Regions from separate parts of the Homo sapiens genome. Here region 2 is linked to region 1. A link means that fine-mapping ties the variant in region 1 to the expression of a gene that starts in the linked region. Tissue or cell type: whole blood. Region 1 holds a variant in brackets; the other region holds the start of a gene. All regions are shown on one strand. Distances are from middle to middle.

Evidence for each region. PIP is the estimated chance that this variant, and not a neighbour inherited with it, causes the effect.
Region 2: it holds the start of CSF1R, and the variant in region 1 is fine-mapped to the expression of CSF1R in whole blood (TOPMed, PIP above 0.99).

Annotation. Positions count from the first base shown.
Region 1 is chr5:150,120,042-150,124,313 of GRCh38, forward strand. It overlaps PDGFRB (platelet derived growth factor receptor beta), which reads right to left. Exons shown (of 23, transcript NM_002609.4): 14 at 4,209-4,272; 15 at 3,001-3,160; 16 at 1,839-1,999; 17 at 1,163-1,281; 18 at 847-969; 19 at 1-82. Among named protein-coding and RNA genes, the nearest start is that of PDGFRB, 34 kb to the right of the region's middle. RefSeq lists an enhancer at 367-1,274. The variant C/T (reference allele first, on the strand shown) is at 2,199.
Region 2 is chr5:150,084,491-150,088,621 of GRCh38, forward strand. CSF1R (colony stimulating factor 1 receptor) reads right to left here and starts at 2,064. Exons shown (of 21, transcript NM_001288705.3): 1 at 1,889-2,064. The coding sequence starts at 1,937. RefSeq lists a promoter at 1,937-2,369 and an enhancer at 2,122-2,151.

The DNA.
Region 1 (4,272 bases):
CGAAGGACCACACGTCGCTCAGGGTGGTGTAGAGGCTGTTGAAGATGCTCTCCGGAGCCATCCACTTTAAAGGCAAAAAGGTCTGTAGGGAGGTCAGGACAGGTGCTGAGTGCAAGGAAGGACCTCAGCCCCACTCTGCACCTGGGATGGGAGGAGGGTATCTGGCAGCTCCCACCCACAACCACTTCTCCGTCCCATTCCCTGTGAGGGCCCTGGTCTCTGCGCAGCACAGTTCCCATGTCCATCCCAGGGCTGGTCAGAGGACCAGAGGCTGTTTCCTTTCTCACTAGCTGGGGACAAGGCAGCCCCTGTCCCTGGGGAAAAGCCCCAGGGTCTGAGTAGTGAAGTGTGGGAGCCAGGGACTTGTCAAGGCACCCCCCAAGCTCTTATCCTGGCTGCCTTTGATCTCTGGGCCTAGCGTCCCTCCATCTGGGGTTTGCGGAAAAGTGGGGAGATGAGAGACAGGCAGGATGATCACGTTTTAACCAGACCAATCCCTGCTACTGCATGTGACCTGCTCATCTTTCTTGCCCTGTCACCTGGGCTTCTTCCTCTGCCCACCACCACTGGAACAACACATTCGGCCTGTTCCCCCTTCCCCCACCCTGGACCCATTATAGCCAGCCCTCCCCGCCGCTATACTTGCTCCATGCACTCCTGGGCGGCTCCCCATCCTGTCCCTGCACACATAGCTGGGCAGGCACAGCCCATCACTGCTGTCAGGGCAGGCCACAAGGAGCCCCACACAGATTTCCTATGAGCTGCAGCCACACTGGTCAGGAGGGAATCTGTTCCTGCGGTCACAGGCACTGTGACTGCCCTGCAGGGGCCAGGGAAGGTACTCACGCTGCCTTTGGAGATGTAATTCGAGTCCCGCATGATGTCTCGAGCCAGGCCAAAGTCACAGATCTTGACCAGCTTGCCTTCACAGATGAGCACGTTCCTAGCCGCCAGGTCTCTGTGGACGCACTGGGTTTGGGGAGAGGGGAGCTGAGGCCTTGGGGACAATTGTGGGGAAAGACCCTTCATGTCAAGGGCTTTGGGAAAATACAACACTGCCCATGTGCGAGAGGCCACCCTGGTGTGCTCTTGGAGGATGCTGGCTGGCTGGGTGACCCACCTCCCCACAGCCCCCACTCTGCCCCACCAACACCACACGTACGTTCTTGGAGGCCAGAAACTCCATGCCATTGGCCACCTGGTAGCTGAAGCCCACGAGGTCCATGTAGCTTAGCACTGGAGACTCGTTGATCAAAGTTGCTCGGCAGGTCCTCTCAGGGGCTAGAGGAGAAGCAGAGGGTCACCTGCTATCTTATATCTCCTTCTGGCCCACAGGACCCCTGCCCTTTGGCTCCTGGGAGACTGAATGTCCAAGACAGGTGGCTACTGATCGTCTAGGTCTCCCCTAAAAGGAGAATGATTTCTTAATATCAAACTCAAAGTTCTCCTGCTTTATCAGTGCCCTCATTGGCCTTTTGGCATTAGCCCTTGGGCCACTTTTGCCCAGCCTGGCCTGCCTGCCTGCCTCTCAGGGACACTAGACCAGCCTGGGGCTGAAGCTGAGTAGATCACTTTCCCTACCACGACAAAAGGCCAGGTCCTCCCATATCCCTGCTCTCTCCCTCCCTGAGGGTTCTACGCATGTTTCCGGATCCATAAACAGGGCTTCCGTTTAGGGGTCCACTACAGATCAGTTTTGGCCAGGTGGCTAGCCTCAATTTCTACATCTATGAAATGGGCACGAGGCTCCCTTCTTCTCAGGGTTTTTGGCAAGGCTGGGCATGTGAAGAGCATCAGCCTGTTTGGATGTGGGGTACTATGTCACTATGTCCACCCACCAGAGGGAACGTAGTTATCGTAAGGGGCCATGTAGTTGGAGGACTCGATGTCTGCATATTTGACGTCTCCTTTCATGTCCAGCATGGGCACATAGTCCACCGACTCGTCCTTGCTCATGTCCATGTAGCCACCGTCGCTCTCCCCGGTCAAGGACACATGGCTGGGGGTAAAGGAGCATCACAGGAGAGCCTGCAGGCTTTGCCTTCCCCTCCCCTCCTGCCCCTTGCCACTCATGAATTTCTTCTCTCACTCACACACTCACTCATCTTCCTTCAGTCTATCCCAGTAGGAAAGCCTGTGGATCAAGACTTTTCAACCAACCTGCTGGGCCAAGCTGGGCACTGAGGCTACCAAAATGA[C/T]AGTTAGAACCCAGAGAGCTCACACCCAGAGGCGATTACAGCACCCCAGGGCAAAGGTCACAAGACGGGTGTGTTCAGAGGCGCCTTCCTGTGGCCTCCCCAGCGCCACCTGGCCATGGGAGTGCCTGACTGCAACCCAGCATAGGCAGCCAGGATTCACCCCGCTACCTATGCCTGTAGCATCAGCTCCCCAAAGAGCTGTGGGGCTCTACACACATCTGTCTCTATAGGCAGGAAAAAGATGGGAGAAGCCCTTTGGCTCCTGGGAGACTGAATGTCAAAACATTGGAGAGGACATGAGTGGGTTTTAAGGTCTTTTACGCTTTTCTGAAGCTACTCTTGTCTTTGTTTTTGTAATCAGCAACAGAACTAAGAAGTGTTCTTTTTGGAAAAGACAAAGACTGGAGTTGAGCTCCCTGAGAGGCAGTGTGGAGGCTGATGTGTAGAGGCTGCAGAGAGGAACACAGCCTGGAGCACCACTGTGCAAATTGGGAGGCTTGGCTCTCATCTCACCACAGCCTCTGCCCCTTCCTCCATCACTGCCTGCCCTGGACTGAAGGGCAAACACCCACGACACAGGGATGGCATGTCACATCTGTAGAGGGCTTAGCAGCACAGGGCCTGGCATTAGTGTTATTCCCTCATCTGGGGTGGACCATCTTGTGGAACAGCCCTAGCTCCAGGAGTGATTCTGTCCCCTGCCCTGTCACAGCCTCAGCTTCCCCTCCTGGACAAAAGGAGGGGAAGGAGCGGTGCTCCTCAGGTATCCCAAAGATTCAGTCCCTGGCCTCCCTCCTGGTACCTGGGCAGGGGGAGCCCAACGGGCAGAGCATTGCTGTAGAGCTCCGCGCTGGGCGGGCGGCGCTTGTCGGAGTGGTGCTGCAGGAAGGTGTGTTTGTTGCGGTGCAGGTAGTCCACCAGGTCTCCGTAGCGGCAGTACTCAGTGATGATATAGATGGGTCCTGCAGAGGGACAGGCTCAGGGACAGTCCCTATGGAGGCCTCAGGCGTCCCTTCAAGGCCATGAGGCTAATCAGGGGCTGGATGTGGGAGAGACACTTTGGCATGACGGCTAGGAGGCTTTAGTGCCTTGCAAATCTGGATTCTTTTCCTGCCTCTGTGGTGGAGAGCAAGGTACTTAGTCTCCCTGAGCCTTACCTTCCCCAGCTGTTAAGTGGGGCTAATTAAACCCACCACAAAGCACTGTCATGAGGATTAATGAGATGATGTCTTTATTGGCTGGGCACGTGGCGAGCTCGCAGTGTTGGCTCTTATTGATATGTTTTCAAACTAAAGCTTACTTTGGAGCCCAGTATAGAAAGCAGATAAAGGCCACTGTTTACAACGATCACTTTAGTAGTTAAATTCAACTACAATGCATTTACTTAAAGTCAATCAGTGAGAACTTGAAGATATCTACACAAACGAAAATGTTGAAATGAGCGATCATTGCAAACGTGAATAAGTCTATGTACCCAACATACTTCTGTATTTTATTTTGGTTGCATAATGCTGAGGAAAATCCCAAATCTCACAATAAGCAGCTGCAAATGGTGATAACATTTTTTTTCAGCCTAACTGGCAATCAGAGCTTCAAATAGACCCAGTTGGCCACAGAGACTTTCTTCTATGATCAAATGAAGGTAGCTCCCAAGTAGCAAGCTGGTGGTCTCCAATGGTGGGCATATAACTCATCTTAATGTCATGTGAGCTGTTATTTATTGGTTTTCAAAATGTATTGGGAAAATAAAAAAGTGTCAGCCAACACCATGGTCTGGAAGCTGCTGGGACTGGTGACCTGACTAATCCTTCAGCCTTGAAGGTGTTGTGATTTTGTGAGTTTCTAAACCCCACCGCCCTCTGGGACCGCGCAGTGAGGGCGCTGGAGCGGGTGGGCACGGACCCTCCAGCAGGAGTGTGCTGTTGTGCAAGGCCTGAGGGGGGGGTAGGCGGGGCCTGGCCTTGGTGGTGGGCACTTTCCCTGAGGCCTCTGGGGCAGTGGGCTCGGTACCTCCTTTGGTGCAGGCCCCCAACAGGTTGACCACGTTCAGGTGGGGCCCAAGGTGACTCATGAT
Region 2 (4,131 bases), 36 kb before region 1:
CGCCTAGGCTGGAGTGCAGTGGCATGATCTCAGCTCACTGCAACCTCTGCCTCCCGGGTTCAAGTGATTCTCCCACCTCAGCCTCCTGAGTAGCTGGAACTACAGGAACCCACCACCACACCCGGCTAATTTTTGTATTTTTTAGTAGAGAGGGGGCTTCACCATATTGGCGAGGCTGGTCTGAAACTCCTGATCTTGTGATCCACCCGCCTCGGCCTCCCAGAGTGCTGGGATTACAGGTGTGAGCCACCATGCCTGGCCACAAGACTCCATCTCAATAAAAAAAATAAAATTAAATTGAGACCTGGCTCAGATACTTTTCCGTTTTTGCCCCACAGGCAGGTTGTGGGTGTAAGGATAGGACAAGGCAGTGAAATCAAACCTGTGGGACTCTCTGAGATGAAGGGGGTGGCGGGTACACTGTGTGTGCATTTGTCAGACCTCATTGAACTTAAGAACCTGTGCTTTCTACTGCATGTAAGTTACATTGCAAAATAAGAAGTCCAGGCCGGGCGCCGTGACTCACACCAGTAATCCCAACACTTTGGGAGGCCAAGGCAGGTGGATCACCTGAGGTCAGGAGTTCGAGACCAGCTTGGCCAACATGGTGAAATCCCATCTCTACTAAAAATACAAAAATTAGCCAGTCATGATGGTGTATGCCTGTAATCCCAGCTTGGGAGGCTGAGACAGGAGAAACACTTGAACCCGGGAGGTGGAGGTTGCAGTGAGCCGAGATTGTGCCACTGTACTCCAGCCTGGTGACAGAGAGAGACTCTGTCTCAGGAAAAAAAAAAAAAAAACCCAAATACTCAAGCTCAGTGTGATTGCCTGGGCCAGAGAAGGATGGTCAGTGGGCCATCTCCTCCTCATCAGGGACCAGAAGCGCCACGGCCTTAGGGTCCTTCTGTGAAGAGGCCAGTATGAGGCTGTCCTTTCTCCCCTTCAATCCCCATCCTCCCCCAAGGTCCCTTTGAATAAGCAGGCAATAGAAATGTGTTTGTTGGGCCAACAAGCCAAGCACAGCAGCCCCTCACCTCTAGTCATGTTCCCTCCCAGATGGAAATTCTGCAGAACTGCTACAGCCTGGGGACCTCCTGAGACTTGGCAGCCTGTGTCTGGGAGGGCTCTGGTCCAGGAGACCCTCACTGGCCTCTTCCCAATCCCTCCTCTAGCCCTATACCTATTTCACCCCGAATTCCCCTCTCCTGAGCCCTGGGCCAGAGAGGCCAACCTCTTGTCTCTCCCCTCTGACCCCTTACACAAGCCACCCAAGGAAGAACCACCACCCCTATCAGGCCCTTCCAAATCAGATCTTGCATAGAATCATCGAATCACAGGCTGGCAGAGCTGCCAGAGCCATCAGGAGCTCTCCAGGTCCTCCCAACTCAGTGTAGGTCTGGACCAGCAGTGCCGGCATCTCACATCTCCCAGGAGTGTGTTGGATATACAGAATCTCAGGTCGCACCTGAGACCGACTGAGTCTGAATCTGCATTGTAACAAAATCCTCAGGTAACTTGTATGCACAGGAAAGTATGAAAAGCACTGCTCTGGTCTAGTCTATCACTGTCCCCCTGCCCCCAACACCTGCAATTGAATAGAAGTGGACACTGAAGCCTCAAGAGTATCAGAGGCTTGCTCAGGACACACAGTGAGTCGCTGGCAGAGCTGGGACAGATCCACAGCACCAGGTGGACCAGTTCCACCACACCCATCTCTTTTCACCCCACTACCTCTCCAAAGCAGATACCCACAAGCCTGCAGTCCAGTGTTGGGGAGACTAAAACAGCCTGAGGACACCCAGTGAGGGGCAAGGACTGAATCCTTTCACAGGGGTCTTCTCCATCACACCCCAACAAAGTCCCCCACCCCCCGTTCTGCTCTTACCATGCCAAGCTGTGGCCACCAGCAGGAGCAGCAGAACTCCTGGGCCCATGGCCTCGGTGGGGAAGTGGCAGGCAGGTGCAGGGCTGCAAGGTGCCCAGGGCACAGAGCTCTCAGCTACTAGCTCCGCAGGGATCGGGACACTGGACACACGTTCCTCTCCTCTGCACTGGCTGTTTGTCTTGTTTTCCTCTTCCTCCTCCTTGGGCTGATCCTCTTCTTCCCCTTTTAGCTAGGCAAGGCAACCACAGAGTTTGGAAATCTTGGGTCTTTAAGAAGAAAACAAAGCCTTGAACCCAAGAGGGAGGGGTCGCAGTCTGGGGCAGGGCCAGCCTGAGCTTGGGGGGAGCTAGCTAAGTTTGGGGCCCTTCTAAAGCCATCTTCAAGGGGTCTTGGGAGAAGAGACATGTCCAAGAGCAGCCAGACCGTTAGTCAGTAGCACAAATGAGGGTCTTCAGAGTGATCAGGTGGCTCTGGCAGATCCCAAAGAGAAGTTAGGTTGCATGATATTGTGACATATATATTTTTTCTTTACCCTGATGTCCTGGCTTACAACTCCTAAAATCCTTGGAATCTCCAAAGTAATGCATATCTTTTAAAAATTTATTATTATTATTTTAGAGACGCAGTTTCACTCTGTTGCCCAGGCTGGAGCTCTGTGGCTCGATCATAGCTCACTGCAGCCTCAAACTCCTGGCTCAAGCCTTCAAGCTGTGAGATCTGACGTTATCTCTAGGTAAATATAGTGTTCAAATTGAATCGGAGGGCACCAGATTCGTGTCTGCTGCAGAATCTGAACAATTGGTTGATTGCTTGGTGTATGGGGAAATATGCCCCATCCTCTACATCTGGGGTCAGAAGTATTTTGTGTTGTGAGACTATAGGAGAAACGGAGTTTGTTTTCTTCCTGTATACAGGTTGGTCTGGGAGAGCCTGATAATATTGGCAATAAGCTTCCTTTTACAGGACATTTACTAGCCAAACCTTTTACATTCACTGTCTCCTTTAGTACTGCAAAACTTTATGTAGGTAAGTACTATTGTCATTCTCATTTCACAGATGGGAAAACTAAAGCTCAGAGAGATCAAATGCCTTAAGCTTGTCCATAGTCAAACAGCTACCAAATGGTGGAGATAGGATTTGGATCCCAGCAGTCTGGTTATAAAACTATCTTTTGTGCGTTACTTACATTGTTTATTTATTTTTACAAAGAATCTAATTGTTCTGCATAATTCTTAAAATATATAGCATTCCTTTGCTCCCTCTTTTCCTGGAGGCAATTGCTTTTACCTCTTTTAGTTGATTCGCTTAGTATTTTACTTCTTATCTCTAAAGAACATGGTCATTTCTTCTTCTTTTTTTCTTTTTTTTTTTCTGAGACAGGGTTTGGTTCTGTCACCCAGGCTGGAGTGCAGTAGTGTGATCTCGGCTCACTGCAACCTCCACCTCCCGGACTCAAGCCATCCTCCTACCTCATCCTCCTGAGTAGTTGGGACTACAGGGGCATGTGCCACCATTCCTAGCAAATTTCTGTATTTTTGGTAGACATGGGGTTTCACCATGTTGTCCAGGCTGGTCTCAAACCCCTGAGCTCAAGTGATTCGCATACCTTGGCTTCCCAAAGTACTGGGATTATAGGTATGAGCCACTATACCCAGCCTAAAGTTCCTTCTTGAAATTGAAAAATCCTGATATAACATTGATCCAGGAAAATGATCATTCCCGTGTACTCAGGTGTGTGTGTGGTGTGTATGTGTGTGTTTGTATGTATATTTATGAGTGTATATATGTACTTTCTTTTTCAGAAAAGTGTTTTGAACCTTTAGCAATCATGAATGTCAATCAAAGCTGACTCAAGAAGAAAAAGAAAATCCAAATAAACCTATAACAAGAAAAGAAATTTAATCAGTAATCAAAAACCTCCCGACAAAGCAAAGCCCAGGACCAGATGGCTTCACTGGTGAATTCTCCCAAACATTTAAAGAAGAATTAATACCAATCCTTTTCAACTCATTCTATGAAGCCAGCATTTTTCTGGTACCAAAGCTAGACCAAGACATTGCCAGAAAAGATAACTACAGACCAATACAAATGCATGAATATAGAAAGCAAAAATTTTCAAAAATGTACTAGCAAACCAAATCTTTTTTTTTTTTTCTTTCTTTCTTTCTTTTTTGAGACAGGGTCTCACTCTGTCACTCAGGCTGGAGTGCAGTGGAGCAATCTCGGCTCACTGCAACCTCTGC